5 separate regions of the Homo sapiens genome follow, and regions 1, 2, 3 and 5 are each reported to be linked to region 4. Evidence: microRNA targets listed by miRTarBase, many of them from high-throughput screens and not tested one by one. Region 4 holds a microRNA gene; each other region holds the end of a gene's coding sequence.
The links. The annotated mature microRNA hsa-miR-6845-3p reads CCUCUCCUCCCUGUGCCCCAG and lies in region 4 at 3,107-3,127, shown strand. An mRNA with a match to its seed (bases 2 to 7 or 8) in the 3' UTR can be bound and repressed. Matches are read on the target gene's strand: a 7mer-m8 pairs with bases 2 to 8, a 7mer-A1 pairs with bases 2 to 7 and ends in A, and an 8mer does both.

Region 1 (6,120 bases), not on the chromosome of region 4:
GAGATGATGGCATGTACACAAAGCATGAGGAACACATAGCCATAGCTGGCCGCTGCATTACTGTGAAAGGCATAAAGAGGCTGGTGACCCTGCTGACCCATGGTGGTGAGCTGGGCCACAGCTGACGGTGAGTACCTACTCCATGACCCTGTGGATTACCGGGTGTCGTTCTGTGATTCTACAGTCCCAGAACTTTACAAAATTCTTCAGTTCTGAGTGCGAGTTATAAAAAACAGACTCAGACTACATGGCTCTGTAATCTACTTCATAACTCCATGGTTGGATGAGGGCGGGAAAGAGCACTTAGAGGCTGCCATTTTGTGCCAGGCACCGTACTTGGTTCTCTACAAATGTTACTTCATTTCTTCTACACACAGTCCTGTGGAGGGAGATATTTTCCCTCCCTCCCTCCCTCCCTCCCTCCCTTCCTTCTTTCCTTCTTTCCTTCTTCCTTTTTTGCTCTTTCTTTCTTTTCTTCCTTTCTCTCTCCCTCCCTCCCTTCCTTCGTTCTTTTTTTTTTCCAGGGTCTAGCTCTGTCACTCAGGCTGGAGTGCAGTGGTAGAATCTCGGCTCACGGCAGCCTCAACCTCCCAGGCTCAGGGAGGTATTTTCTCTTTCTTTGTTTGTTTCTCTTTCTTTTTTGTCTTTCTTTTATTTTTATTTTTCTCTCTTTGCTTTTTTTTTTTTTTTTTTTAAACAGGGTCTAACTCTGTCATCCAACCTCCCAGGCTCAAGCTATCCTCCCACTTCAGCCTCCCAAGTAGCTGGGACTACAGGCGTCACCATGCCCGGTTAATTTTTAGATTTTTAAATTATGTTGCCCAGGCTGGTCTTAGTCTTGAATTCCTGAGCTCAAGCGATCCTCCTGCCTCAGCCTCCCAAAGTGCTGGGATTACAGGCAGGAGCCATCGTGCCCGGCCTTGAGGGAGATATTTTCATCCCTATTTTCCAGGCTCAGAGAAGTAAAGTGACCTGGCCAAAAATCACACAATTGGTTAGTGATGACCCCAAGATTTCAACCCTTTTCTGTGAATTCCAAAACGGATTCTTTGCACGAATTTTCCTGATTGTGTAAGATTCGAAGCCCTCGCCCTGGGCGCCAGGGTTCCTGGAGGGCGGAGTCCGGCAGGGCGAGGGTAGTCTGGTGGGCGGGAAGGGACTGGCCGCATAAAGCAAACAGCGCAGCCCACTTTGGCCTCCAGCCGCCCCGGTCCTGGCTCTTGGCCCCGCTGGGATCTGGGGTGTCTGGCCATGCGTGAGCACGAGGTGGCGCTGCGGGCCGGGAGCCTCCGCACGGGCAGGGAGGGGCCGCGCGGACTCCCGGGTCGGCGAGGCCCGCCGGGGCTTCCGCTCTCCTTATGGCTGGCAGGAGGCCAGGGCTGCGGGGTGCAGGGCAGGTTCCCCACGGGAAGGACGAGCCCGCCCAGCGTGATGGCATCCGCGCCCATGCTCTCACTGGGCCTTCACCCTGCCCCGTTTTGCAGAGGAGGAAGCTGCAGCTCGGGCGGAGGTGACCTGCTCCAGAACTGATTGCCGCAGAAGCCCCCTCCTTCCCTTCGCTGCCCTCCGCACGCTTTGGCCCTGTCTTTAAGGCCTTTTTGTTCCATGGCCCTCCCGCAAGGACTCCTTCCACAAGCGGGGACTTGGGAAGACCCGGACCCATTGGGTGAAAGTACCGTGATCCCTACCTCCATCTGAATCCTCTCCTGTCCCAGGAAATGTAGGGGAAGTGGAGAACAAACAGGAGGACTGTGGGGGCCCGGGGTCTCACCCTGACCTCCCTCTCCTCCACACCGCCCGGCGCCAAGCCTCAGCTCTTTCCTACCTTGACCGCTGGGTGCCAGCCTCGGACCCAGGGCCTCAAGCTGATACTTCTCCCTGGGGAGGCCTGATTACAAGATGGGCAAGCTCCCACCAGTGCATATGGCCTGAATGTTCTGGGCACAGAGTAGGGATCAGGAAAAACCTGTCATTGGTGATGATGGTAGACATTCCCTGTAGACTGGCCAGTTAGAAGGAAGAACTTGGTGACAGCAGAGCCACCCAGATGAGCTCCAAGTGTGATCTCTGTCAGTGGAAGTGTGCAAACAGGAGCTGGGGTACCATAGCAGCTGAAGCACCAAGGAAGAACAAAATACTGTTGCAGTTCAGAGGAGGGAGGTGGAAGGGGCCAAGGAAGCTTCTGCGGGCGGGCAAGAACTAGGTCTACTGGATAGGAAGGAGGTTGAGAGACAGGGGTGAGGGCAAGGGCAAGGTCCCACAGTAACGCCTGAGCAAGAGAACAGGTGTGCAAGGGCCTGCATGCTCATGGCTATGGCTGGAGCTGGGGTGGCAGGAACAGTGGGGTAGGGCCACGGGAGATGAGAGGTGAACAGGGTGCAGGAACTCCCTCCTTCACGTCACCTTACTCCCCAAATCCTGAGATTATCAGGCTTTTCAGGGAGAACAAGCTGCCCAGGGCAGGGCCTAACCTGATTCATCTTTGTGGCCCCAGAGCCCAGCCCAGGGATTGCCAGTGGACACTGGCTGAGTAAAGCAAAGAACTTTTTATAGTGTTTATTAAATCAAGGACCGGTTAGATAGATGATGGGCTAGGCAGGTGGGGGAAGACAGAGCTCACTGCCCTGTGGGGTCTCTGTGGGGCCAGCCCCTGATGCCCATGTGGCCACTGATGCCCAGCTTCCCCCAACACCCCAACACAGGCCCAGGACAATATTACAAAAGTGAACAAATGCAACCTTTTTCTGCTTTTACAAATGACATGTCTCCATCCCCGGCCAGCAGGGGTAGGGGAGGCCGGTTGAAAGTGACACTCCGTTAAAAAGGCAACAACTTTTATAAAATGAAGACTAAGGAAACAGCCCAGGGTTCGGAAGCTGAGATGCTACCCTGGGGGTAGAGCATAGACATGGGTCGGGCAGACCTTGTCTCCTTTCACGGCATTCCTGGGAGGGTAAGAAGGGCTGTCGTGCTCAGGGCCAGTGGGGACTGAATCCAGGAGGCCCCTTGGAGATCCCAGCCAGATGAGGCTCCAGAACTGCAGCAACTCCTTGGGGCAGCATCTAGAGGATGCTCAGGGGAAAATGGGTAGGTTTCCAGTCTGGATGCTGGGGGACCCCAACCCAGGGTGAGAAACTGGCTAGGCTGGAACCAATGTGCCCTAAGCTTCCAGAGGCTCCGAAGGGCAGAGTGACTTAGCCCATGCCGCACAGCTGGTCAGAGGCCCAGAGTCCCACTTGTGAGGCTCTTGCCTGTCCTGCTGCTGCTACTCCTGTGCTAATGGGGAACAGGCAAGGGCAGCAAGGGGAGCCCAGGCGGGGAGGGTGGGGCTTATTAGAGGAGACAAGAAAGTGCATTGGGTCCGGGCTGGGAGGCAGGAGGCTGTGCTCCAGTCATGCCACTGCCCGCAGGAACTTAGATTAGCCTTTTTCCTTCTCAAGGCCTCAGTTTCCCCATCTGTCACATGAGAAGGGTGGACTTGATTCTTTGCAATTCCTTCTACCATTAAGGTTCTAGGGAAATAGAAAAGGATGAAGCGGGCCTCATGGCCTCATGGCAAAGAAAGGGCTATGTTAGAAAAGAAACTCGCCCCTGAGTGACTGGGCCATGGGCCCAAGGGGACACTCAGCCCAGTGGACCTGAACTCTGCCCTGCAGCAGGGGGTCCCACCCACCCTCTGCCCATTGCGGGTCAGGCCGGCCCAGGCATGAGGGAAGGCACTTGGGGGATAAGTGGGGAAGGGAAGCAGGAGGGGACCCGAGTCTGGTTTGGCATCGAAGTCCCTCTGCTCATGGTTTGGGGAAGCAACGTAGACAAAGGGGTGAGACTTTGCTCCTAGGTGTGGCTCCCAGGTCCAAAGCCTCTCCTAGGCCCACAACTCCTGTGGTGACGCTGCCACATAGGCCTGCGGGCTCCCCACTGGTGTTGGCACATTGAACATAAGTTACTCGGGACCTGAGGCAGCCCAGGACAGCAGTCTGTTATGTGGCCCTGGGCCACACCATTTGTCACAAGATGGTGGGGCCCCTGGCAGCAGAATCCCGGGTGTCTACGCAGTGCAGGGCCACCTTGGGGCTGGAGCCAGGCCTCCGGGGGTAGGTGCCCTCCCGCACCAGGCGCCGGCACCGCACATCCTGGCCCACGCTGACGCTCTGCAGTGCCGGGAGGTGGAGGAGCAGCGCCTCAGGCAGGGGCACCAGGTTGGTGCCCGAAAGGTCCAGCTCCTGCAGGGAGCTCAGGCCTGAAAACACCTCAGCTCCTGCCCAGTTAAGCTTGGGGTTGCCCGACAGGTCCAGGACCTGCAGGCCCGGTAGCTCACGGAAGCCACTGGGCGCCAGCTCAGGGAGCCTCTGCAGGCTGGCCAGAGACAGGTGTGTAAGGCCTCCCAGCCCCGCGAAGGCACCCGGACCAATGACAGCTAGAGGGTTCCCATCCAGGCTCAGGTAGCGCAGGGGCAAGTCTCGGAGGTTGGGCACGGCATGGAGCCGGTTCCAGGCCAGGTTCAGGCTCTGAATGGTGGGCGCAGGCAGGCCGGCCCTCGTGGGGTGGGGCACGAGGCGGTGAATGAGGTTGTGGGAGAGGTCCACGTGTAGTGCCCGGCCCTGACTGTGCGTCGTGAAGGCAGACACTGAGACCTCCCGGAGCTGGTTGTGGCTAAGGTTCACGTCGCTCAGGGGTGAGCTGGTGAAGCTCTCGGCTGGCAGGGCTGTCAGGCCATTGTGGCTGAGGTCAAGCGACTCCAGGTAGCGAAGGCGGGAGAAGGCAGTGGGTGAGATGCTGGTGAGCAGGTTGTGGCTGAGATCCAGGCCAGCCAACGTCGTGTAGCCCGGCCCCGCCAACACCGACTCATTCACCATCTCCAGCCGGTTGGAGGACAGGTCCAAGTGGGCTGTGTCCAGAGGGATGGGCACCGGCATGATGTGGGGGCCCAGGCCGCTACAATCCACCCGAGTCAGGCTGAAGCTGTCGAAAAGGCCGAAGGTCTCCACCTCGCATTGGCACCCGGGGAAGCATGGCCGGGTTGTCTGGGCCCCACTCACGGCCAGCAGCAGCAGCAGGGGCCACGGCATGGTGGGGGCTAGAAAGAGAGCCACAGGTGAGGAATGAATGCACCAGATGGTCTAAAGCCACCACACAGGACATGAGCCCAGTCTAGACACTGTTGGAAGGTGTCACAGACCCCGACCTCCTGGAATGCTTCCTGGAACACTCCCCAGAGTTCCTAGTCCCAGTTCTTCTCTGGCCTCTGCCTCTCCATTTGTATGGTAAGGGGCGTGAGGCCAGGTGGTGAATTTTCAACTAGAAGCAGCAGATCCCTTTCTTAAACAAGAGCAGCAGATGAAGGCGGGCCTGGTCTGGCTGAAGTGAGGGGGACCTGAAGCCCTCGACTTCTGCCCACCATCCCTGCCTAGGGTGTTAGGAAACCCAGTTTGAAACCCACCAGACTAGACGGTTTCTCGGGCTGGCCTCTCCAGCTCTGATGGTCCAGAGTCCCTGGTTTGGTCTAGACCTCGGGCCCCGGGTGAGGGGCTCATCCACAGGGCTGAGGGTAGGGTGTGCCCAGGGTGCCCCACTCTCTGCTGAGCAAGTGTTACACGTCAGGCACTGTTCTGGCTGCCCCACAGCATGGTCGCATCTGACCCTCACAACCACCTTCCAAGGCAGAAAATTCTCTGTTTTACCAAAAGGGAACTGGGCCTTAGGTTAAGACGCTTTTGGACAGCCACACAGCAGAGTGGAGTGGCACTAGAGGGGACACTGACAGAGAAAGCACCTGTGGTCTGGCCGGGGCTGGCCTTCAAGACCAGGACTCCCTCCCTGCAATGGGGCCTGCAGTGACTGCCCCACCGCACCCATACTCCACCTGCCCTGTCCCCCTAGCCTGTCATCCAGGGGCAGGAACTTCCCTTCTCATTGGGCATCCTGGTGTCCAACGTGGGTGTCCAGATTCCCAGATGGGTTTTGGGGACACCTGTCCCAAGCCTCTTTCCCCCTTACTCTGTCCCTTGCCACCAGCAGATTAAGCTACTACACCTCTTTGGTTCTTCCTTTAACCTCGGGCAGGCAGTTAGGCTGCTTCCCCCATTATACAGATGAAGAAACAGAGGCTCAGAGAGGAAT
Region 2 (6,120 bases), not on the chromosome of region 4:
TGTTTGATCACTGCAGCCCATTAGGGCCCAGCTGAAGCCTATTAACCCAGGTGTGAAAAGCTCTGGCTTCTCTAGGCAGCCTCTGAGCCTAGGGTAGGAGCCCCCCAACTTCCTAAGACATGTACACTTTTTTCCTCTTCTCAGTTGAGGGAGCTTTTTCCTCCATTGTTTATGGAGGGCCTTGCACTGCTAATGAGGTCAGGGTCGGGTTCAATTCTGAAATGGGGGTTAACTCCTTCATATCCCAAGTTGAGGGGTGCAGGAGCCCACACCCAGCCCTGAAGACTTCTCCTGCACCGTGCACCATCTCCTTCTTAGAACACTATGCCAGAATGCCAACCCACGAGCAGTGGGAAGGGAGCATCATCTCTGACAGCAACCCAGAGTCCTCTAGTTACCTGGGAAGTAAATTTGACTCCTCGATTTGTAAAGGGCAGAAGAAACCAAAAGATTCAGTTAACATTAGCTTTTATTGCAAATCTGGTTAGAAATAGGAGAGAAGAATGTAAATTTGGAATTTAAAAAAATCAAAAACACTTCTCCTAGTGAAAAAAAGTTCATTTTTCTGAGAAGCAAAATTTATTATATTTCTGTTGTAATGAAAACGCTGTGGGTGCTTCGATGGGGGAGGACAAAAAGTAAAAAGCTTCTTACACTTTTCCTCTGTCGGTAGAATTAAAAACATTGTCCACATTTAAGAAACTGAAGATGAAAACACAACAATCTTTTTATTTATGTAAATCAGATTAACACTGGACAATAAACCAATTTCTACCCATTACCATAACAGCTTGTTTATAAAGAACAGAAAAATTCAGATAGGATTCTATCTAGGGTCAAGAGGTTTTTTAACCACCCATTCACAGAGGTATAGATTCACAGATAAATAATCCCAAACTACTTGCTCGCCATATTTACACATTCCCATTAAATTAAGCATAAATAAATATATACAAACTTAACATGAATACCCTCCAGAGCTCTTCTCGTGAAGAGTCAATAGATTGATATTTCTTGATTGTGTGGCAAAAACAATGTTAGAGAATTAGAGACCAACTCAAAGGTGGAGTCGATTTTGGCATTTAAAGAAGGATAGTGTTCATTCCGTTAAAAAAAAATTGATACTTTTTTTTTTAAGCCAGTAATTTCACATACATCGTCAAAGGTGGGGAAACGCCGTTTGGGCTCTTGAGGCAACATCAGACGGTTTAAGGTTATTTCCTTTCCACATAATGTATTACAAGTACAGGATATCAGATGTGATGACAAATTCTCTATAAACACTCTTAACTAGGAAAGCATTGTAGCAGAGGAACAGTGTGTAGATAAGCTCGAGGTTTCGAGTTTTCCATTCGACCAAAGTTTTCGTAGGATATGAAATAATTGCTTGAGAGAAAGTGGCTTCCTTGGCCAAGGAAAACAAAGCAGCCAGGTCTTTAAAAGCCTCTTCGGTTCTTTAAGTGGGGATGGAGGAAAGCTATGGGTGTGGAGGCCAGAAGGAAGGAAAGAAAATGCAAGGTAATTGGGGGTGTAGGAGTGAAGGTGGTGGGGAAAAGGGGGAGAAAGTTACCTTCCCACTTTGGGGGAGAAGTTAAAGATCTTTTTAGGTGACGGAATCCTCACCCAAACAGGACATTTCTTGCTCCCCAGAGACCTGCAATACGTGCAGGAGGCGGCAGGGTTTGGCAGAGAATGGTCTGGAGATCTTTGGAACCTTTAAAAGAACTTGCGAAGTGGAAAGTGTGAAGGCAGCACTGCCACATCCTGACTCCTCCTGTCTTTCGCTATTTTGTTTTGGGACTGAGCGTTTAGGAGTGGGCAGGGACCAAATGTCTGAAGAGTGCAGGGGCCGGGGGGAGAGCTGCAACTCACCTGTTTGGTTTGAAAACAAAGCTCAAAGGGGCTTGCCTTAAACGTCTCCCTTGACTTAAAAGGCAAACTATTGCGTTAATCCTACTGTTTATTGATTTATAGGCCCAAGGAAACCAAATCTTTTAATAACTCAATTATCAGATAAATGTAGCGGGCCTGGCTAAGGAAAGCAAGGGGGCGGGGGTCCTACATGAAAGGAGAAGTGAGGGAGGGAGAAGGGGTAGTGGGCTCACTCCACGAAACGGGGTTGGGGGCGCAAAAGGTTCTATCTCGCTGGAGCAAGGAGGAACACACAAATGAGGGCGTCTGGCAATGAAGGTACCCTGCCTTGCCAAGTAAGACAATTCCCATCCCATCTCCCCGCTTTAGGATTGTGACGGTGGGGTGTTTCCGTACTGGCAGAGGTGGAGGAGGGGAAGCTTCGGATTCCTTGGATATTTCTAGGCCACTCTCCCTCCAGGAGCCGGCGCCCCGGGTGGCCGCTGGCGGCGCTGGGAGCCCTCCCCACCTGCAGCCCACCGGGCGCCGCCCCATTACCTACTGGAGAATGGGGCTTTCTCGGTCGCCTTAGCCCTTAGGGTGAGACCGAGAGCGGGAAGGGCCCGCGCAGTCGGCAGCCCCTCCAGCGGCTGATTCTATGTCCTCAACACGACTGGGCGCCTGTGGCCCACACGCTCTCAGGACCTGCACAGTAAGAGCAAGGCGCGTCCATCGCGTCTCTCGCACGTCACACGCGTGGGGCGCGTTGCCCTGCAAGGAAAGGAGACGATCGTTTTCAGTGTGGTCTCTCCTGGCCTTGTGCAATCAGAACACATCTAATGCGATCGGCCGAGCTCTCGGACGAAGGCGCAGGCCTCTGAGCTGGGAAAAGAGAGTGACTACACTCTCCGTAACGTCTAGCTCTTGGCCATTGCATTCCTCTCAACAGTTCTAGGGCTGGGCCATGAAGATCAGAAGTGCTAAACGAAGCTAGGGGTTGGAGATGGGCTGCAGTGTGGCCCTAACAGTTGCTTGGGCCCTTTTGGTGACCTGAGACGAGCTTCCTAACTTCCCTTTCCTCTTTTAATAAAAATGGGCAAAGCTCTCAGCAGATTCCTAAAACCCCAACGCAATCCCCACTCCCCCAATCCCCACCCCCACCAAGGCAAAGCGGGAGGGGGGCAAAACCGGGAGTCCTGGAGAATTGAGTGGGTCCTAACTATAAATCCTGCAGAACAACATCTATGTCGTTATCTTTAAGGGGTATTGCAAAGATCTCGTCTACTTTGTTAAATAGGTGAGTGTATCAACACTATATTTAGAGACCTCTCTCATTCACCCTTATCCCGGGATAATTTCTCACTGCTTTTGCGGAGGTGCAGACAATGGATTCCAGATCTTATTTCATGATAATGCTAAGATGGAGCCCAAGAAAGGAGCTGGGCTGCCAGAAGTGAGAAATATTAAATGCATGAAACTTTATCCACTGGGAATAGTCCCGATGTATCCAGACGGTAAAAATCAAAGCTGAAATACATCTCCCTTCACTTTGCATTATTTTGCCATTATATGCCAAAACAAGTGCACGTCTGGGAGGGAAAAATGCCTCATTCATAAAGCATCTTGTAAGAAAGCAATTGTTACAGAAATGTGGGTGCTTGTGCCGCCCTCCTCCCCACGTCCACTCGTAAAGCTGCTTCTTTCCTTGCTTAAACAGCAATCACCAAAGAACCCAGGGAAATCAAATCAATTTTAAATGCAGGGCAATACTATTAGAATATAGGGCTCTAAGAATCCTTACTCTTTTCCCTTAAAATTCATTTTGCAGACCCCCTCCCCTGCCACCTCCACCGGAATTGGAGTGTTGAGGAATGTTAGCATGTAGATTCAAAGCTGCTTCCATCATATTGGCCACTTTCTAAATTATTCCCTTTGAGCTTCTTTAAAGAAGTGCACCTGCAGAATTCTGACACACAGGCTTTGATTAAAAAGGGATCGGATTTTTTTTTCTCTGTACCTTATAGATTGTGTAGGAAGCCCAAGTCCTCTTTGAAGAAGCTCATAAACCATGCGGGCAAAGCTTTGGAAAACAGAAGAGAATGAAATGGTACATACCCCTCCGAAGGAATTACATACTAATCAACGTATTCATATTGTGTGTGTGTGTGTTTTTTTTTTTTTACTATAGTTCATAAAATTAGTAGATGACACAAATATAATAAATGTGAGATTCTCTCTATGCAGATGCTGGCAAGGCTGGGAGCTAGTAACATTTCTGAAAGGAACTGATGATGTTTGAATCAACTTATTGGTCCGGATTTTCCTCAGCCGCCAGAACCTGCTCTGCCGGCCGGCACCAAAAATTGCAGCCTCCGCCTGGTCTCCACAGGCCTCCCGCCCCGCCCTCGCCCTCCCTAATTATGCAAGCGGCCGGGGAGCCGGGCCCGGTGAGTTAAGATCGCAGGGCTGGGCGGGGAGGTACCGAGAGGACTGAAACAACGCAAAAGGGCCAACCACACTCATTTTCATCCCAGAAGATTCCCGTAACAATGTGAGGAAGGGAGGGTAACATGGAAAAGGGTGGTTGGGAGACGGGTGAGGTGAGATGGAGGGCGGGGACTGCGAGAGTTTCCTAAAAATATATTTAAAATTAAAAAGTTCGTGCGTCTCAGTCAACCAGCTCTCAAAGCATTGACACCAACGTTTCTCCGATTTTCTTCCAATAAGTTAGCGTTTTTCTCATGTTTAGTCTTATGTTTATTTTCCAAAGGGAAGGGGAAATCATGGTTTTCTTTTATTATCAGTATTACTAAACTCGAAAGAACCGAAGTGGAAAATCCGGACGGTTGTCTCCAAATGTATCTTGAAATAGACACTGAGAACCGATATTGTTGCTCCGTTGTACGCCTCAGTTTTTTTTTAAGTTATTTAGCTTTTTTTTTTAAAATTTTGATTGTATGTGTATTCTACCTAATATAATTCTTCCAAAGCCAATCCAATATTTTAAAGCTAAAATTAAATTTTTGTCTGTTTTTCCTTTTGTATTTAAAACATTTTTCCTTCTTTTTTTAAAAATTTTTCATTTCCTGTGTTTCTCCTCCTTGTCGCCAGTTTTACTACCTGGGCCTTCCCCAGACGTGTGCCTGTTAGTGGTGGTGTTGTTCAAGAACATCTTGTCCATGCCTTTGAGCGCCTCGGTGAGATAGTTCTGCAGGGCCGTGAGCGCGGCGCAAATGGCCGGGGCGCCGAAGCCGTGCGTGATGAGGCTGAAGTGCGTGAGGCAGCTCTGGATCCCCGGCTCCAGGATGGGGCTGGGTCGGCTGTTCCCTATCGGTGTCCGGTCCTGCGCCAGTAGATCCGTAAATTCTTTACAAAGTTGCCTGCAAAGGGGTGGGCGAGGCACAGAAAATCACCCTCAGTGTCGTTGTCATTGGCATTAGAAAGGAGACGCTCACACAAGCCCAGAGGCGCCGGGTCACCGAAGAGCGAGGCTAATGTGGGCGATTCCGCTCTGTTTCCTTTCCCAGCGCCCTCCCTTCTCGAGCAGCTGGGACTGAAAGGAAAGCGGGGGTGGGGAGGTAATGCACCCCTTCCACCCCAAAGCCTTGCCTTCCCCCGACTTCAGCCTTTCTCCCCTCCATTCCAGGACCGCCTGGACTCGCTTTGGGACATTCGCTAGGCTTTAGCAGTTGATTTTTAATACTTCATAATATTGAGCTCTTACCTGGCATTTCTTTTGAGCTGTTTCCCCCGCGCCCCTCCCACCTCTCCAACCTCTTGGTGATCAGGCGCAAAAAGCCCTGAAAGATTTAGGCCCCTCGGCCACAAGCCTGTCCCTGGCACTGAAGCAGATTGCTGGAGCCTTCCATGGCCCAGGGCAAGAAACTGTTTATTCTAGAGAATGCTGATTCCATTCAAAGCAAAAACCTGTTTACCTGCAGTATTGGGGGAGGGAGCTAGTTTCTGCCTTTCCCTCCTTTCTTTCTTCCAAGTGTAGGGCACTGAAAATCTTTGTATAACCAGACTGTTGTCAATATAAAAGGATTCCCATATAGTTTAAATAAAACCTAAAGGTAGGCTGTTAAGACACTAGGGAGGATAGATTTTTATTTGTTGAAGGTTTTTATTTCCTCAAGCCACCTACAATTTAGAGGAATCTCCCAGCCTTAGAAATCCTGCGTGCCTACCTATGGATTGAGCTTATTTGAGAAATTTTAATATAGGAGCTGGATGGGATGGTTCTAGCCCTGAAGGTCAAATGGCTGGCAG
Region 3 (5,822 bases), not on the chromosome of region 4:
TGGCCTTTCCTGGGCCTTAAAGCATGACAAAATAACGAAGCAATTCTTAATAGGACACATTTAGGATTAAATAAGTTTTACTGTGGGTCTGAAGAAACTCCCCTGGCCTCCACAAACAAGTTTATTGGGGGTGTGAAGGAACTCCCCAAACCTCTAATTTAGCAGGAGACAAGATAAGGGTAATTACCCCAGCACCTGGACCCATTTAGATTAAGTAAATTTACTGAGGCTCCAGAGGAAGGTCCTTAGGACTCAGACCTTCTGGGAACATAGTGACTATTCATGAAGTGATTGCTACCATCTTTTCTTTCAGGAAATCTCTACCTCAACAGCAGGTTTGAGCCCTCTCCTTCCCTCTAAGCAGCGGCCTCCCTTGCACAGCCCCTGAGGCAAGAAACCCCGTCTTATCCCTTCCATATCAGCTTACACCCAGGGGACCCTTGCCCAACAGGCAGTCTTCCTGGAGGAGGTTGGCAGTATGTTTAAACCAGTCCACAGGATCCATAGCAAGGCGCTTTAAGCAGAGAAGTCCATGTGCTGTTCAGACATCTGGCAGGAACTTGCCCTGCCAAAGGGATGCAGACTGTCCTTTTTTTTTTTTTTTTTTCTTTTGAGGCAGAGTTTCGTTCTTGTCTCCCAGGCTGGAGTGCAATGGTGCAATCTCTGCTCATTGCAACCTCTGCCTCCCAGGTTCAAGTGATTCTCCTGCCTCAGCCTCCCGAGTAGCTGGGATTACAGGCATGCGCCACCACGCCCGGCTAATTTTTTGTATTTTTTTTTAGTAGAGACGGGGTTTCTCCATGTTGGTCAGGCTGGTCTCGAACTCCCAACCTCAGGTGATCCGCCCACCTTGGCCTCCCAAAGTGCTGGGATTACAGGCGTGAGCCACCCCGCCCGGCCCAGACTGTCCTTGTACTAGCTCCCCTCTCTCCTCTCCTCTGTATCACACTGTAGTGTCACTGTCACTGGGCACTGTATCAAGCTTGATGGCTGAAGAGGCATCGTGTTAATGGTGGAGGGTGTCCAGGTTCTTGGCATCTTGAACAAAGAATTGGACAAAATGCACAAAGCAAGGAAGGAATAGTTTTATTGAAAATGAAAGTACACTCCACAGTGTGGGAGCAGGTCTGAGCATAGGGACTCAAAGGCCCCGTAACAGAATTCTGGGGAGTTTACATACCCTCTACTTGGGGTATGCCCTATGTAAATGAAGAGGATGAAGTGATAAAATCATTTACTTGGCCTACGCCCTATGGAGAGGATATTTCCTGTCATAGCTGAAGTGTGAATCAGCCTTATGTTCCTTGCCTCCAGACCCTATTTTCCTGCCTCAATTGGGCTGGTTTTTAGGATATCCATCTCCCTTTAATTGCACTCTCAAGTTTCACCAGTACTTCTCTCACCTCCTACCCCCAAGTGGAGTCAGCAAGGGCAACCAGGTGACTGCCGTGATTATCTTGTTACAGAAGATAAGAAGACTGTGGTTCTAAGAGATTAACTAACTGAAGCTTGTACTGCGTGTCAGTAGCATAACCAGGATTTGAACTCTGGTTAGCCTTCTCACCCCAAAGTCCATTACACTGCCTCAATAAATGTCTTTTACATACATATATTTACTAATAAGATTGTGTAATGACATTTCATTAATAAAAACGAGTGGGGTTTCAAAACAGATTGCTTTATGTCAGGTTGCTTTACGTCATAAAGCAAAACAGATTGCTTTATGTTTCCAAAACATATTTCATGGAGCATTAGTATGCCCAGAGATATGAATACGTATTCCTCAGAAATAACGAAAGAGGTAATGGAAGTAACTCTCCACAAGTAGAATGTGTGCTCCACTACACAGCCTGTCTCTGTTGGAGATTTAGAAAATAAATGGGTAAGATGAAGGACTTCAGAAGTCATGAAATAATAAAATCTGCTTATCTTTACTTAACTAAGCACATCTCACACTCTTATAACCACAGAATCCTTATTAAAACCATCTATGGGCTGGGTGCAGTGGCTCACGCCTATAATCCCGACACTTTGGGAGGCCGAGGGTGATTGCTTTAGCCCGGGAGTTCAAGACTAGCCTGGGCAACATAGCAAGACTCTGTCTCTACAAAAAATACAAAATAAAAAAAAAAGCCAGGCATGGTGGCATGCACCTGTTTGGGAGGCTGATGTGAGAGGATGGCTTCAACCTGGGAGGTGGAGGCAGTGAACCAATATCACACCACTGTACTCCAGCCTGGACATCAGAGTGAGATTCTGGCAAGAAGAAGAAGATAAAGACAAAGAAGAAGACAAAGACGAAGAAGAAGAAGGAGGAGGAGGAGGAGAAGGGGAAGAAGGAGGAAGAGGAGAGGGAGAAGGAAAAGGAAGAGAAGGAGGAGGAGAAGAAAGAGAAGGAGGAAAAGGAGGAGAAGAAGAGAAAAAGAAAAATTGTATTAGTCTGTTCTCACACTGCTAATAAAGACATACCCAAGAATAGGTAATTTATAAAGGAAAGAGGTTTAATGGACTCACAGTTCCTCATGGCTGGGGAGACCTCACAATCATGGCGGAAGGCAAATGAGGAGCCAAGTCATGTCTTACATGGCAGCAGGCAAGAGAGCTTGTGCAGGGGAAGTCCCATTTATAAAACTATCAGATCGCGTGAGACTCATTAATTACACCATGAGAACAGCATGGGGAAAACCACCCCCGTGATTCAATTATCTCCACCTGGCCCTGCCCTTGACACATAGGGATTATTACAATTCAAGGTGAGATTTGGGTAGGGGCACAGCCAAACCATATCAAAAATCAAACAATACTTAAAATAAAGAATAATGCCATTATTTTCACTTAAGTTGAGGCATGAAAAATTAAACATGCCTGTATTTAAATTAAGGAAAACAAAAGGATAACAGTAAATATGCAGCGTCTGTGTGTTCATCACAGTGATGGTGTTAACCAGGCCACAGGCTTGGTGAGACACATTTTTTCTCTGCTACAGGGACAAGCCTGCCAAGCAGATGGCACAGACATAGACAGACCAGTCTCCCCAGGTGCCTGAGAGAAACATGGCTAAGTTCTTACAATCCCATTACCCATTTTTCTTGACTATTATCAACCTACCCACACATTATTTTATCATGTTTTTCACCAACAAGGGAAAAGCCTGTTTTCTTCTATACTACATTCACATAATATTTCTGACACCAAATGTGTGGAGTTTTTTTCCCCATCCCAACCAATTTTCCAATTCTCTAGACACCAACAGAGTATCCTATATTTAATTGAATTCTGACACTAAATACCTAGAGTTGATGCAGACCCCACAGATTTAAGGGCTCAGTCCCATAAAACCATCCCCAACTTCAAACACCAGTCACAACTAGCAGGTCCCCAGGTTGCCCATACTTCTGTCCAACATGGCTACACATGGGGGTTCCCACAACCCCCTCCTCAGGTTTGATAATTTGATACGGCAATACAGAACTCAGGGAAATGCTTTACTTGTGTTTAACAGTTTATTTTAAGGCTACTACAAAGGATACAGATGAACAACAGCCACATGAAGGGGTACCTGGGGCAAGGTCCAGAAGCATCCTGAGCACAGGACTTGCTGACTTCATAAAGCTGGAGTGCGTCACCTTCCTGGCACATCAAAATGTTTGCCAACCCTGAAGCTCCCTGAACTCCATAGTTAACGGATTATGTCTTGTTGACATAGGCCTGATGGATTATTGACACAAATCTCCAGCCCCTCTCCCCTCTCTGGAGGTGGGAGACTGAAAGTTTGAAACTTCCAATCATGATGTGGTCTTTGTGAGCAGCCCCCATCCTGAGTTATCCAGGTGCCCATCAAGAGTGACCTCATTAGAACAAAAAATTCTCCTATCACTGGGAAATTTAAAGGAATTTAGGAGCTTTGTGTCAGGAACTGGGGTCAAAGACCAAATACTAGAACAAAAGATGTACTCCATCACTTTGGAAATTACAAGGGTTTTAGGAGCTCTGAACAAGGAACTAGATAGGAAGATCAAATATATATTTCTTATTATATCACATTATCACATCAACTCAATGTACATTTATTACACTTTCATTACAGGTTGAAGTTTACAGACTGGTGTACACTAAATGCATTTCAGGTAAGCTGCTCCCTAAGGACCTATACGAAAGCCCAATAATCAGATGATAAACTGTCTCCAAATCCAGCTTCCAGGAAGTTTACCTATAGACTGAAATGCCATCGATGGAATTTAGACACTAGTGATCTTTAAGTCCAAAGGGCCTGGGTATCCTAACCTCATCAGCTTGATCTTTTTCTTCCAATATCACATCTGTACCCAGTCTTTTTTTCTTTTTTTCTGAGATGGAGTCTCGCTCTGTTGCCCAGACTGGAGTGCAGTGGCACGATCTCGGCTCACTGCAACCTCCACCTCCTAGGTTCAAGCAATTCTCCTGAGTAGCTGGGACTACAGGCGCATGCCGATCTGTACCCAATCTTATTAGGGTCTGCAGCATTGTTCACTCAACACAAAAACTGGACATGAGCATTTTTTAGTTCCATTATGTGCCTAGTACAGAGGCGTATTCAGCAGGTAGTTAAATATTTGGTGAGAGGAGGTGAATCTTGAAAATATATAAGTTGGCCGGGCGCGGTGGCTCACGCCTGTAATCCCAGCACTTTGGGAGGCCGAGGTGGGCGGATCATGAGGTCAGGAGATCGAGACCATCCTGGCTAACACGGTGAAACCCCATCTCTACTAAAAATACAAAAAATTAGCTGGGCGTGGTGGCAGGTGCCTGTAGTCCCAGCTACTCAGGAGGCTGAGGCAGGAGGATGGCGTGAACCTGGGAGGCAGAGTTTGCAGTGAGCCGAGATAGCGCCGCTGCAGTCCGGCCTGGGTGAAAGAGCGAGACTGTCTCAAAAAAAAAAAAAAAGAAAAAGAAAAAAACAAGAAATAAGCTTTATCCAAAAAAGTTTTATTTTTATAAGAAACAAGAATAGGTCAGGTGTGGTGGCTCAAGCCTGTAATCCCAGCACTTTGGGAGGCTGAGGAGGGTGGATTGTTTGAGCTCAGGAGCTCAAGACCAGCCTAGGCAACATGGTGAAACCCCATCTCTCCAAAAAATACAAAAATTAGCCAGGCATGGTGGCGCACGCTTGTAGTCCCAGCCATTCAGGGGGCTGAGGTGGGAGGATCACTTGAGCCTGGGAGGTTGAGGCTGCAGTGAGCCATGTTTGCGCCACTGCACTCTAGCCTGCGTGACAAAGCAAGCCCCTGGGTGACAAAGCAAGATCCTGTCTCAAAAAAAAAAAAAAGGAAACAAAAAAGATTAAAAGTTAAAAAAATTATATATAAGAAAATTATAGAAATAGCCTCTATACTCTATACCCTGTTGGTATGTTCAAAAGTTCACAAGGGACTCAGGTTATAACATAACGAGTAAGTCCTCCCCCTCGGACCTCTGATAGCCTCCGGCAGTGTCGTAAAATATTCAGTAACACGTGAAACTTCTTGTCAGCTTTCAAAGTTGTGAACTCCTTTATGTCAGCTTCCACTATAAAATAACGACCTAAAAATAAAGATATTAGTGCTAATTTTTATAAGGCCAACTTGCAAAAGAGTCTTTAATACATTAAGTTGTGAATATGAATGGTATTAGTCGTTTTTACTGTTAGTATCCAATAAAACCAAGAACTAGTATTCTTGCTAAAATAATAATTATTCTATCAACAGAAGTTGCATGCATGATATTTATTAGGTCACTAGCTATCTGTTGGTATCGCTTGAACAATTCACTTTTCAAGAGGCAATGTGACATAGTGGTTATAAGAA
Region 4 (6,120 bases):
CGCCGGCGGCGGATCGCGCAGAGGGCGGTGGCCTGGGCTGGCCGAACCATGGCGGCCCCGGAGCCGGCGCCGAGGCGGGCCCGGGAACGGGAGCGGGAGCGGGAGGACGAGAGCGAGGACGAGAGCGACATCCTGGAGGAAAGCCCGTGTGGTCGCTGGCAAAAGCGACGGGAGCAGGTGGGCGCGGGGGTTGGGGCACGGGGTGACACCGCCCTCCCAGAGCGGGAGGGGCCTGGAGGCTGCGCGGGGCGTGGGGGCGCTGGGAGAGCGCGGCGGCTGGAAACCTCTCCGCGGCCCCTCGCGGCCCGCGAATCAGCCACCCCTGGACCCCTTTGGCCTGGCGCTCGCCCTGGGACTCCCTGAGGGCCAGTCTCCTCCCAGGACCACCTCCCCATGCCTCTGGACTCAGCCGCTAGCTTCCTGGGGATCCCCCTCGACCCCCTGAAACCTGCTCCAAATCCCCTTAGCCCAGCCCTTGGATAGGAGCCCTTGGCTCCTGGGGGCAGCTACCCTCCAAGCCCCACCTTCCCGCAGAGTGGCTCAGGGCCTGCAGCCCACGCTTGGGCCCACTGGAAAGGTGTGGACAGGGACCAAATCCTCACCCACAACCCTGACACACACCAGGGCACACATAACCCTTTATTCACCCCCAGGTAAACCAAGGGAACATGCCAGGGCTTCAGAGCACCTTCCTAGCCATGGACACGGAGGAGGGGGTAGAGGTGGTGTGGAACGAGCTCCACTTCGGAGACAGGAAGGCCTTCGCGGCGCACGAGGTGAGACCGCTGCCCCCTCCTCATCCTGCTTGGGTGACCACCTGCTGACCACCCAGCGACCACCCTCCCTCCCCAGGAGAAGATCCAGACCGTGTTCGAGCAGCTGGTGCTGGTGGACCACCCGAACATCGTGAAGTTGCACAAGTACTGGCTGGATACCTCTGAGGCCTGCGCGAGGGTGAGCACGGGCAAGGCCCCGGGCAGGCAGAGACCACAGCTAGGTGGGGCGGGCATGGGGACGAACCCGCAGCTGGTGGAAATCCTGAGCTCGCACCGTGCAGGTCATCTTCATCACAGAGTACGTGTCATCAGGCAGCCTCAAGCAATTCCTCAAAAAGACCAAGAAGAACCACAAGGCCATGAACGCCCGGGTATGGGGAGCGGGCTGGGGCAGCCACGGGGACAGGACGGGGTTGGGGCAGCCTCGGGGACTGGGATGGTGAGGGGGTGCCCGGCGGCCTCGGACAGGGGCTGGGCGAGGATGCGGGGCGGGCTCCGCAGGCCCAGCCGCCTCTCCTGCGCCCACCCGACCGACGGAGTCGTGCGTCCGCCGCCAGGCCTGGAAGCGCTGGTGCACGCAGATCCTGTCTGCGCTCAGGTGAGGGCCTGGGCTGGCCTGGGCGCGGCGCCACCGAGCCCCCATCTCTCCAGAGCCTCCTGACCGGCTCCTCCTACTCTCCCCTCCCCAACGTCTGCAGCTTCCTGCACGCCTGCAGCCCCCCAATCATCCACGGGAACCTGACCAGCGACACCATCTTCATTCAGCACAACGGCCTCATCAAGATCGGCTCCGGTGCTGGCGGGGCAGGGCTGGGTGGGGGAACGGGGCAGGGGAAGGTGCCTGGAGCCAAGGGCAGAGGAGTTCTGATGCCCCAGCAGCTAACTCCACTCTTTCTCCCGCCCCTTGGCAGTGTGGCACCGAATCTTCTCCAATGGTAAGTGCGGACTTTGGGGGGACGGGGTCCTGGAGAGGTCCCCGCCCGCTCAGCTCTGCGCCCTCCCACAGCACTTCCAGATGATCTCCGAAGCCCCATCCGCGCTGAGCGAGAGGAACTTCGGAACCTGCACTTCTTCCCCCCAGAGTATGGAGGTGAGTGGTGCTGGGTCCGGGTGCCCCGTGCCTACCCTGCGCTTCTCTCCTACGTGTCCTGTGCTCTCTTCTGTTCAGAGGTGGCCGATGGGACCGCTGTGGACATCTTCTCCTTTGGGATGTGTGCGCTGGAGGTACTGCCCCCGCCCTCCACCTTGTGCTCTGCCCTCCTCCTAACTGTGCCCTGCCTGGCTCACCTGTGTGGTCCCTTCCCCATGCCTGACCTGGCTCTGTGCCCCAGATGGCTGTACTGGAAATCCAGACCAATGGGGACACCCGGGTCACAGAGGAGGCCATTGCTCGCGCCAGGCACTCGCTGAGTGACCCCAACATGCGGGTAAGCAGCTTGCCCTGCCCCTCCCCAGCTGGCTCACCGTGCTCAGCTAGGGCTAGCAAGGTGCTCCAGGCAGACCTGGGAGAACATCACAGTTTGTGCAGTTGAGGGGTATACCAGCTGACTGCACCCCTCCCAAAGAGGACCTCAGTGGGAGCACATACTGGTTCCAGGCCTGAAGGCCCTAAGGGGTCAGCACATTCTAAGGACAAGAAGGCAAGAGAGACCCTCCCTCTGTGGCTGCCATCACCATGCCCGTTTTATAAAGAAACCAAGGTTCAGAGGAGATGAGTCCTTTGCCCAAGGCTTTAGAGTGAGTGGTGGAGCCAACATCTGCACCTGGGTCTGCTTCACTCCAAGTCCTTGACTTTAAGCTTCCAGGAGGTGATGAGGCTCCAGCTTGTGGGGGGACATGGTGGGTGCCAAGCAGGCAAAAAGAGGTATGGGATGGAAGCTGCATCCACAGCCCCCTCTGCTCGGAGTCTAGACTTAACTCCATGGCCTCAGGAGATGGGGGTGCCTGGTCGGGGCTGGTGGCGAGCTGGAGCCGGGCTGGGCACGGATGTGGACAGAGTGGGGACCCATCAAGGTCGTCTCCAGTGTTGGGCCCGAGCTGAGCCGATCAAAAGGCCATGGGTAGGAGGCTTGCAGGTGTGACTTTAGGATCATGGCTTCTCCCCACGATTTTTTGGGGGTCGAGGGAAGCAGAGCATGGTGCTCCAATCCCAGAACCCAGCTGTCCTCAAGCTCAGAGGACCAGGTCCTGGCCTGGCTGCTGCTGCTGGGACTCCTCCCTATGGGCATCCCTGCATGTCCTGTGTGTCCCTGAGGAGGGACATGGGGAACTCAGGGGCCACCTCTCCTCGAACTGCGGGGCCAGAGCAGAGAGCCCTTGCACACCACCAGCCTCTCCTCCCTGTGCCCCAGGAGTTCATCCTTTGCTGCCTGGCCCGGGACCCTGCCCGCCGGCCCTCTGCCCACAGCCTCCTCTTCCACCGCGTGCTCTTCGAGGTGCACTCGCTGAAGCTCCTGGCAGCCCACTGCTTCATCCAGCACCAGTGTGAGCAGCAGGCCGGCCCGGGGGGTGGCTGGGGAGGTGGAGGTTGGGACGTGGAAGGGGCCCTGCAGGACCCACGGCCTGAGCACACCGCCTTGATGCTCTTGTGGCCGCAGACCTCATGCCTGAGAATGTGGTGGAGGAGAAGACCAAGGCCATGGACCTGCACGCGGTCTTGGCGGAGCTTCCCCGGCCCCGCAGGCCCCCGCTGCAGTGGCGGTGAGCAGTCAGCACCCAGAAGCCTCCCCTCCCCACACCTCCCCTCCCCGCACCTCCCCTCCCCTCGCCCCGGCCAGCCCCTCATGTGCCTCCCACTTCCATGCCAGGTACTCGGAAGTCTCCTTCATGGAGCTGGACAAATTCCTGGAGGATGTCAGGTGAGAACTGATGTAAGGTTGGGGGCCAGGCAGCTGTCAGGCCTGAACCCCCAGCCACCCTGTTGTGTCCCCAGGAATGGAATCTACCCACTGATGAACTTTGCAGCCACTCGACCCCTGGGGCTGCCCCGTGTGCTGGCCCCACCCCCGGAGGAGGTCCAAAAGGCCAAGACCCCGACGCCAGAGCCCTTTGACTCTGAGACCAGAAAGGTGAGTCCCCTCTCCTGCTGCTCAGTGCCATCCCTCAGACCTTCTAACAGCCAGATAAGAGGTGCCCCTCCTTCTCTTAGGGCCTGCATCCCCACAGCCCAGCTCTCCTCCTGGCTGCCAGAGACCAGATCCAGGCTGACCCCCTTGTGGGGGTCATGGGGGTTATAGGACAGGCTGGGCACTCTCCTTTTCCGGGAGGCTCCCTGTCCCCTCAGATCCTTCCCCTGCATCCTGCTGCCTGCCCTGAACCTACTCCAAGCATCCTTCCTCCAGAACTCACCCGGGCTCTTCCACCCTGCCAGCAATCTTCCCCCACCCCCGCACCCCTCCCACCCCCCCCACCCCTCCCATCCCCCACCTGGTGCTGATTCCCGGACATCTATGTCCTGGTGTCTCCCCAGACTTTTCCTGCAGCACCCCCTCCTGGCCAGGGGCCTCTCTCGGTGCAGTGCAGCCAGAATTCATGTCCTAACAGGCAAACTGCCTGCTCCTGGCTGCCAGCAGAGATCATGGGAGTCCTCAGCTGACACCCAGGCTCTGGGAGGCCTGATCCCGCAGGCACCGTGCACTTCGGCGCGGTCCTGTCCCGCCCAACCTCCCTTTCCCCACGCCCACAGTTCCCTCTTTGTTCAAGTTGTTCTCTCCGCGGTGAAAGCTCCTATTCAGCCTTCAGTACCCAGCCCCTAATGTCGACTCTTCTCGAAGCTTTCCTTAGCTTGCCAAGCCACTAGCAGTGAGATGGGCTCCTCTTAGAGATTCCCCCCTTTCCAGTCTTTGCTGTCCCTTCCCGGCCCCTTTGGGGCCGCGGCATGTGGTCTTGCTGCTGGGTTTGTGAGTCCCAGCCTTCCCCCGCTGCAGGTCATCCAGATGCAGTGCAACCTGGAGAGAAGCGAGGACAAGGCGCGCTGGCATGTGAGCGGGGCCTGGGAGGGCGGCGCTGCCGTGGGGAAGGCGGGAGCGTGGCGGAGCCCTGAACCCCCAGCCGACCACGCCCCGCCGCCTCCCCAGCTCACTCTGCTTCTGGTGCTGGAAGACCGGCTGCACCGGCAGCTGACCTACGACCTGCTCCCAAGTAGGCTGGGCAGGGGACTTGGGCGGCGGGCGGTGACCCCAGGCGGCGGGTGGGCAGCGGCCTCATGCCTCGCCTTACGCCATTGCCTCAGCGGACAGCGCCCAGGACCTCGCCTCGGAGCTCGTGCACTATGGCTTCCTCCACGAGGTGCGCTGGGCGGTGCGGCGCGGCCTGGCGGAGGGGGCGCACGGGGCAGGCCGCGCCCCTCCGTCCCCCATGCCTCCCTCCTTCCGCAGGACGACCGGATGAAGCTGGCCGCCTTCCTGGAGAGCACCTTCCTCAAGTACCGTGGGACCCAGGCCTGACCCGGAGCCCCAGCCCCAGGGGACCATGCCGGGGTGCTGCCTGGGCAGGCCATGTTGGGGAGACTCCAGCACCGTGGGGCTGCCCTCCTCCATGCGCCTGGGAGCACAAAGGCCCCGGTAGTGAAGGAACCCCCCGTCTCCTGAGAGTGGGGCTGACCCTGCCTTGGGCGCCGAGGGGTTGGGGGGTGGGTGTGGGGGAGCCGTTAGGCCTCCCAGGTCCTTAGGATCAGGGTTGCCCCCAGAACCCCTTCCCATATCCTCCATTCTCCGCCCTGAGTTCCTACCCAGGCTGCCTGGCCGGGGCCACTGCCTCCTCAGCATGCAGGAGGCTGCCCTGTAGGGAACCCCAGCTCTGGGGCTTGGGGGTGAGGGTCAGCCCTGGACAGACCTCTGCCCAGGGAACTGCTCCATGGGGTCTGGGAGAGCAGCCATCCCCTGCTGGCACCATAGACCCACACAAGGAGCCTGCACAGCAAGCCAGCGGTGACACACCTGCAGGTGTCAGGCATGGCACTGGGCACAACAGGGACCTGGCAGGAGAAACAGACCACAGAGAGGTCTGGAGTTGAGGCTGTTGTCAGCAAAGCCCCTGGTCCCACACAGCTCTGCCCTAGAGCCACCTCTTTGACCCTTTACCCACCCTGAGACCAGAACTTGCAGCCCCTCTGCAGATCTCCTCTGGCCACTGCAGCCCCTCCAATGGGCTTTTTCTCTCATGCATTCCCTGGCCTGGAGGCGTCAGGGACCCCACATCCTCCCTGCTCCTCAGACTCACAGCCCCTCCATGTTACCTCCCGCACCTCCTCCCTGGGGCAGCTGCTCCCTGGGCCTCTGAGGATGTCAGCTCCTGGCTCCCTGCCTCTCTCCCACTCCACTCCTGGCTCAGTCTTAGAGATTTC
Region 5 (6,120 bases), not on the chromosome of region 4:
TGGACTTTAAGAAAAAAATGTAGTTCATTGTAAATGCCTACATTTCACAGTCGTTCGTTTCTTTTAACACACACAATTGGATTGACAAAGGTAATGACTTCCTAGCTAGCCATATTCAAAAGAAATGTCAAAAATTTAAATTTATAAAGCTCTCTGTGAAATGTTGTGATGCCCCAATCAAATGACCCTCCTGATCTTGCCCGGCACCCTTTCCCTCTTGGCTGCTGGCGCCTTCCTGTCTCATTGCCAAGGACAAGCCACGTCTGCATGTCTCTATCCCACCCCTCACCACTTAGAATTCTTGAAACCTCTGGGGAGGCTGACCAAGAAGGACAGAGGACCCTATATTTGGGCTTCTGGAACCTAAGTGCCCCAGGGCTCAGAGCTCCTATTAGTGTTATTTCACATTTACTACAAGTTTAAAAAAAAAAACACACAACGGTGATGATGACGGTGATTTTTGTGTCTTGTCCATGAATCACACAATATTATTCTAGGGGGAAACGTACCCTGATTTCAAACAACTCATCTAAAAGTACAGATTTTGGAACATGACCTACATGTTTACAGTGCCACATGAGACTACACTCAGACTCATGGACTTTTTTCCTTTTTCAATTACTAACTGCTTTAGTCCTCTAAACGTGGATTCTTCTTTTTTTTTTTTTTTTAAACCAATACTGGGTCTAACTCTGTGGCCCAAGCTGGAGTGCAGTGGCACACTCATAGCTCACTGTAACCTCTAACTCCTGATCTCAAGTGATCCTTCCTCCTTGGCCTCTCAAGTAGCTAGGACTACAGAAACATGCCACCATGCCTGGCTTATTTATTATTTATTTATTTATTTATTTATTTATTTATTTATTTATTTATTTATTTATGGTAGAGATGAGGTTTCACTATGTTTCCCAGGCTGGTCTCCAACTCTTGGACTCAAGTGATCCTCCCACCTCAGCCTTCCAAAGTGCCGGGATTACAGGTGCCTGGCTCTAAACATGGATTCGTTAAAAGCTTGCCCTATTTCTTTTTTTTTTTTTTATTATACTTTAAGTTTTAGGGTACATGTGCACATTGTGCAGGTTAGTTACATATGTATACATGTGCCATGCTGGTGCGCTGCACCCACTAACTCGTCATAAACATGGTTTGTGTTTGCAATAGTGCACTCCTCATTTTATGCTGACTCTGATGGGAATGTAGGACTCAATTGCTGAAGTTGTCATTACAGCAGACTTTCCTGGAGGCCTTTGTTGTTTGTCAGGTTGCCTTCTCCAAAAGGGGACAGTTTGCCCATGTGGGATGTCCTGCCCCAAGCATTTCTAACTGCTCTTCCATCTCTGTCCTCCCTCTGCAGGCTGGCCTTGGGTGACCCTCTCTGTCCTGGGATTCCTGTACTGCTACTCCCACGTGGGCATTGCCTGGGCCCAGACCTACGCCACGGACTAATGCTGTTGGGCCCAGGCCAGTCCTTGTTGCTGGCCTCCAAGGCAAATAGTGCTTCACCCTGACCTCTCACTCCAGGACAGCCTCTAAGGGATTTGATCTGCTCATCTTCAGTTGAATGCCCTCACTCCAAGACTGGATGCTGGATCTCATAGAAAATTCACAGCCAGACAATCTTCTAATCTGGAGTCTTTGAGATCTTCTACCCCAACTCATCATTTTCCTATTGAGGAAACGGGTCCAGGGCAGTCGTGTGTCTTACCCAGCTACACAGGGTGACATTTTGGTCTAGAACCTAGTCTCATGAGCCCTTTGCATTCTTTCCCCTTAAGCAAGAATAGAATGTAGTGGAAATTTATTGATTGAGACACAGAAATCCTGATTAGTGATAGGCCTGTCTTCTGGGCAATATTTCTAAAATATTTGAGTGACATTGATGTTTAAGTGACCTCCTTCATCACATCCTGCAGTATCTCCAGAAGCAGCACTAGGGTTTGAGTTTCATGCTTCAGCCCCTCTGTAGGAATGAGACCAAGCCACAGCTGTCTTTTGAATTACGTAGTCGAAGAAGACGGTAGCAGCCCTGTAGCATTCTAAGGCATCTATACCCAAGGAGTCCTGTGATCTGAGCTTCAGCAGGGTGATCTACATTTGGGTGCTTGTTTCTGAGATTTGCAGAGAAGTATAACATGGTAGTTCCTCTACCTTACAGTTAATCGTTTCTTAATAAAGAAGCAGAATTTAGAAACCACAGGATAGTGTACCCACAGATGGGTGTTATCAAGGCCAGTCATGAGGATGGTGTCCTGGAGTCTTGTCCACCCTCTCCATACAAGTCTCAAAAGTCATCCTCCTACTCAGTGATTCACGTTTAGTGGTTTATATTATTAAGGTTTGATTCAAACAGAGCCTTTTCTGTCCTGTAGATAATCTACATGTTTGTAGAATTATTTTGAATATGTTTGAGGAAAATGTTTAAAATCTAAATATACTCACATAACTTGATTATTCACTCCTCTGAAAAGATGCTGGATAGGCTACCAAAGTTCCCAAGTGGTAGATAATTCAGAAGACTTGTTTGAATTTGGATTTTTTTTTTTTTTGGAGTGGGGAAGGGTATAAAGGAGGCTTAAAATTTGAATCCATAATATATCTAATTACAGGAGAATTTACAACATCTCAAGTACGTAAATTAAGTTGTCATTGAGTGAAAGGTTCACTTGGACCTAGTGCTGCCTCCTGTTTATTACATAGCATGGCCCTTATGTCTTGAGTTGAGGTTATCATCTCAATGAGGCTTTAGCTCCTAGAGTACAGGACCATTTTGTTGATTGTCTTTCTTCATAGCTTCTCTGCTTGGCAAAGAGATGGGAGGGGGCCAGATACTGACTACCTGGGGTAGGCACATTATGTGTTAAAGCAAGACAGAGGCCAGAGAGGGGCAGGTAGACCTGCATAGCAGCAGCCTCAGCAGCTGTCTTGGTAAAGGAGAGAGAGAGACATGGGGCCAGTAATTCCGGGGTGCTCAGAAGTTTTAGGAGGGGATGAGCCTCAGGGAGGAGTGAGCACCTAAATGAACGCAGTAAACCTTCATGGACCAACAGTGATTGAGGATTTGTGGGCAGCCAGAGGGAGTCTGACTGAAGTTTACTTGGAAAGAAAGGGCTTGCTAAGAAAAAAGGGAGTAAAAATGATGATAGGGAAGTGTCTAATGTATGTGCACATATAAGTAATACAAAAGTTTTGAGCTCTTCCAAGTATACCATTTATATACAAACAAATAGGTTTATTCATTCATTAAACTACTTTGGAAGCGTCAGTGGATATATTTGAAAGTGGTAATCCTGAATCTCTTTTAAACTATTATATGATTCATAATGGTTCTCAGGAATTAATAAATGATTACTGTGTTTAGCTCTGTATTTGAGGCTGATTAATTAATATGTGGATTATCCAGGACCATTGTTTTGCTTAACCTCTTCCTACTCCCCACTTGTAATATGAAAATGATAATGCTTCTCTCCTCATGCATATTCACTAAAATCTTGTAGTTACTCTGAATGGTGGTGCCTGGGCGCACAGAGGAGTTCAGGCAATGACACTGGACATGTCATCAGCCCTGGGCAACTTCAGGCGCAGTGTTGGGAAAAGAATAGACAAGGTCCCAAGGTCAATTCCAGCGCCTGGATCCTCTGATCCCAGCCTCGCTCTGCAGGCAAGCCCAAGAGCTCCAAGCACAATCGCCAAGATGCTACCCAAGGAGGGAAGCAAGATACCTGAAGGACACCCAAACCTCAGTCATTCTAATTCTTGGGACCACACAAGAAGACTGAAAGGTATTATTTTTTCAAATTAATTTGAAGTGTCAGCAGAAAACATTTTGTTTCATTAAAGACAGCAGGCCTCAAGAAAAAATAAATCAATGAACAAATAATTGTATTATAATCTATATACTGGGAGAATAGCAGTTTAGGTAGGGGAGGGGGTGGCTTCTCCTGACAGAAAGTGAGACTGCTCACTTGCTTATTTAGAATAATAATATAACCATTGACTAAACATAGTAAATTAACCGTAATATAATGAGTTTGGTTTTTAGCAGATGTATCAGAATATATCCATACAATAGGGTTCCCTTCAGTGTGGACAACATGAGAAGCCAAAGTATGATACTACTGGCCTCAGCACATTTTGAGAAAGCCTCTCTGAGGCTTTCTCAGGGAAATGGTTTTATTTTAAAACAAAAAACCCTCTTTTTAAAATCATTGAACTCCATTTGGCACCCAAAACATGGCATTCATTACTTAGCTCTATATTACTCGTCCTTTTGACTAATTACAAGAATCATATTCACAGAGATGTTTTGCAACATTGAAGAGATCAGACAGAATGCTTTAGGTTGTGTGTGGTGGCTCACACCTGTAATCCCAGCACTTTTGGGAGGCTGAGGCAGATGGATCACTTGAGGTCAGGAGTTTGAGACCAGCCTGGGCAACAGAGTGAGACCCTGTCTCAAGAAAAAAAAAAAAAAGAATAATAAGTTATTAGTGATAATTTTGAAACATCAATAATTTGGAATTTTAAACAATATCACCCTTATTATTTTTATAATGCTTTTGTGCAATTTGATTAAATCATGGGTAAGGAAACATTAAAAATACTGTACCCCTACTGTGATCCTATAAGATCAAGTAGACGCTTGTAGGTCAGATTCCTCATCTCCTAATTAAGTTATACTGTCTATAATAAGAGAAGTGCCATGTTTGTAATGTGGTCCACTGGATGGTAAATAAGGACTCAGGTTGGCAGTATTGTGGAGCCTTGCCATGAGCAGGAAGCAACACCGATTAAAATAGCAAAACTGAAACCATGCTGGTGTATGGGACTATTTCGATTAGAGGCAAGCTAACTTAATAGCTTCTGAGACTATCAATGAAGTGTAAAGCACAGATCAGAGCTCATATTGTAGACACTGAGTCATTCAAAAAAGATTGTTATATTCTTCATACTACGTTTTAAAAGGCAGGAGGGAAGCATTAATATATTTTATACAAATTTCAATCCAAAGTTTTCAAAATAAAAAAGTGTACATCTAAGTGGGGTGGGAGGTGTCAGCTTTGGGTATCTCAGATCCGTGTGTCATACAGTTTTCCGTGATCCCAGGCACTGAAGTCAACATCTGTGCCCTTGTACAGCAGCTGCAGCTGTACTTTAAGATTGTACAGCTGCATACCTTCATGTCCATTCTCTCACTATTTGGTACTTTGACACACAATCTTGGTGAATCTTGGACTTTAAGTTCTCAAAAAACTATAAGTGCTGTCCAAATAAGAGCTTCCCAAACTCTTGAAGAGAAAATACCATCCTTGTTCTGTCATCTTAGGTCAGAACAGCCAATTCAGTGACCTAAAAGTAATGTAAGGAAAGGCAAAAGCAAGTATCATGTATAAAATAGTTTATTACCATAATAAATAAAACTTTTTTTTTTTACAAATATCATTTGTGCTTGTTTAAAAATGTTGAGAAGGGAATATCATCAATGGAAGGGCCTGCACGTTCCTCTTAACATTCCCAAGCCACAGATATACAGTGGTGTTCTTGGCAGCATCCTCAGCTGACCACAAAAATAGTATCAGCTCATTTACACTTTTGTTTATTCATGCTCATTTGGACAAAGTGACAGATGCAAAGGAAAAAGAAAACCCAATAAAGGATTTGGCAGGACTCAATGGAAAGAGTATTAATATAAGGAGAAGCCCCAGAATGATGAACTGCTCATAAGTAGAAGTGTCCTTGAGGTGTCGGTGAAATGTCGGATGTGGACAGTCTCCAACTGATGCACAAATACAGCATCGGAATATTAAGAGAATACATTCATTAGGGGAGGGTGCATCCTTCAACATAAGATCAGTTTATATCCTGATACAAGATCTGTGAACTTCTCATTGAACAACTAATGGATCCGTCGGATGACTCAGAAGTCACAGATAAAGGGACAGTGGCTGTAAGAAAAGTTTAATGGCAGGCAGGGAGGGCACCCACCAGTCTGGCACCTGCAGGGAATTCAAGTCCAGTTCTAGAGGTTCCAGAATAAGTCTGATATGCTTGCATGAGAATGAAGTTTCACTTGAATTTAAGCTGCAGATAAATTCACATTGATTCTTTTGAGCTGTAGGGGGT

Region 1: the mRNA of TSKU is a reported target of hsa-miR-6845-3p. Seed matches in the 3' UTR shown: 7mer-m8 at 3,861-3,867.
Region 2: miRTarBase lists TFAP2B as a target of hsa-miR-6845-3p. Seed matches in the 3' UTR shown: 8mer at 2,657-2,664.
Region 3: the mRNA of SKA1 is a reported target of hsa-miR-6845-3p. Seed matches in the 3' UTR shown: 7mer-A1 at 5,102-5,108.
Region 5: the mRNA of HHAT is a reported target of hsa-miR-6845-3p. Seed matches in the 3' UTR shown: 8mer at 2,930-2,937.

What each region holds. Positions count from the first base shown.
Region 1 is chr11:76,794,566-76,800,685 of GRCh38, reverse strand. TSKU (tsukushi, small leucine rich proteoglycan) reads right to left here. Exons shown (of 2, transcript NM_015516.4): 2 at 2,542-5,077. The coding sequence starts at 5,069. The coding sequence ends at 4,008. Among named protein-coding and RNA genes, the nearest start is that of TSKU, 14 kb to the right of the region's middle. RefSeq lists a silencer at 1,248-1,507 and enhancers at 4,490-5,395, 5,396-6,120.
Region 2 is chr6:50,842,203-50,848,322 of GRCh38, reverse strand. TFAP2B (transcription factor AP-2 beta) reads right to left here. Exons shown (of 7, transcript NM_003221.4): 7 at 704-5,231. The coding sequence ends at 4,931. Among named protein-coding and RNA genes, the nearest start is that of TFAP2B, 26 kb to the right of the region's middle. RefSeq lists an enhancer at 5,264-5,769.
Region 3 is chr18:50,391,836-50,397,657 of GRCh38, reverse strand. SKA1 (spindle and kinetochore associated complex subunit 1) reads right to left here. Exons shown (of 7, transcript NM_145060.4): 7 at 3,490-5,559. The coding sequence ends at 5,411. Among named protein-coding and RNA genes, the nearest start is that of SKA1, 20 kb to the right of the region's middle.
Region 4 is chr8:143,834,763-143,840,882 of GRCh38, reverse strand. MIR6845 (microRNA 6845) reads left to right here and starts at 3,067; the gene lies at 3,067-3,127. It overlaps NRBP2 (nuclear receptor binding protein 2), which reads left to right. Exons shown (of 18, transcript NM_178564.4): 1 at 1-177; 2 at 654-776; 3 at 853-954; 4 at 1,058-1,147; 5 at 1,334-1,374; 6 at 1,475-1,569; 7 at 1,688-1,711; 8 at 1,783-1,866; 9 at 1,945-2,000; 10 at 2,108-2,203; 11 at 3,128-3,260; 12 at 3,374-3,476; 13 at 3,584-3,634; 14 at 3,709-3,844; 4 more. The coding sequence starts at 49. The coding sequence ends at 5,221. RefSeq lists a silencer at 1-8 and enhancers at 1-23, 3,335-4,062.
Region 5 is chr1:210,672,934-210,679,053 of GRCh38, forward strand. It overlaps HHAT (hedgehog acyltransferase), which reads left to right. Exons shown (of 12, transcript NM_018194.6): 12 at 1,355-3,357. The coding sequence ends at 1,446. It overlaps KCNH1 (potassium voltage-gated channel subfamily H member 1), which reads right to left. Exons shown (of 11, transcript NM_172362.3): 11 at 5,381-6,120. Among named protein-coding and RNA genes, the nearest start is that of HHAT, 350 kb to the left of the region's middle.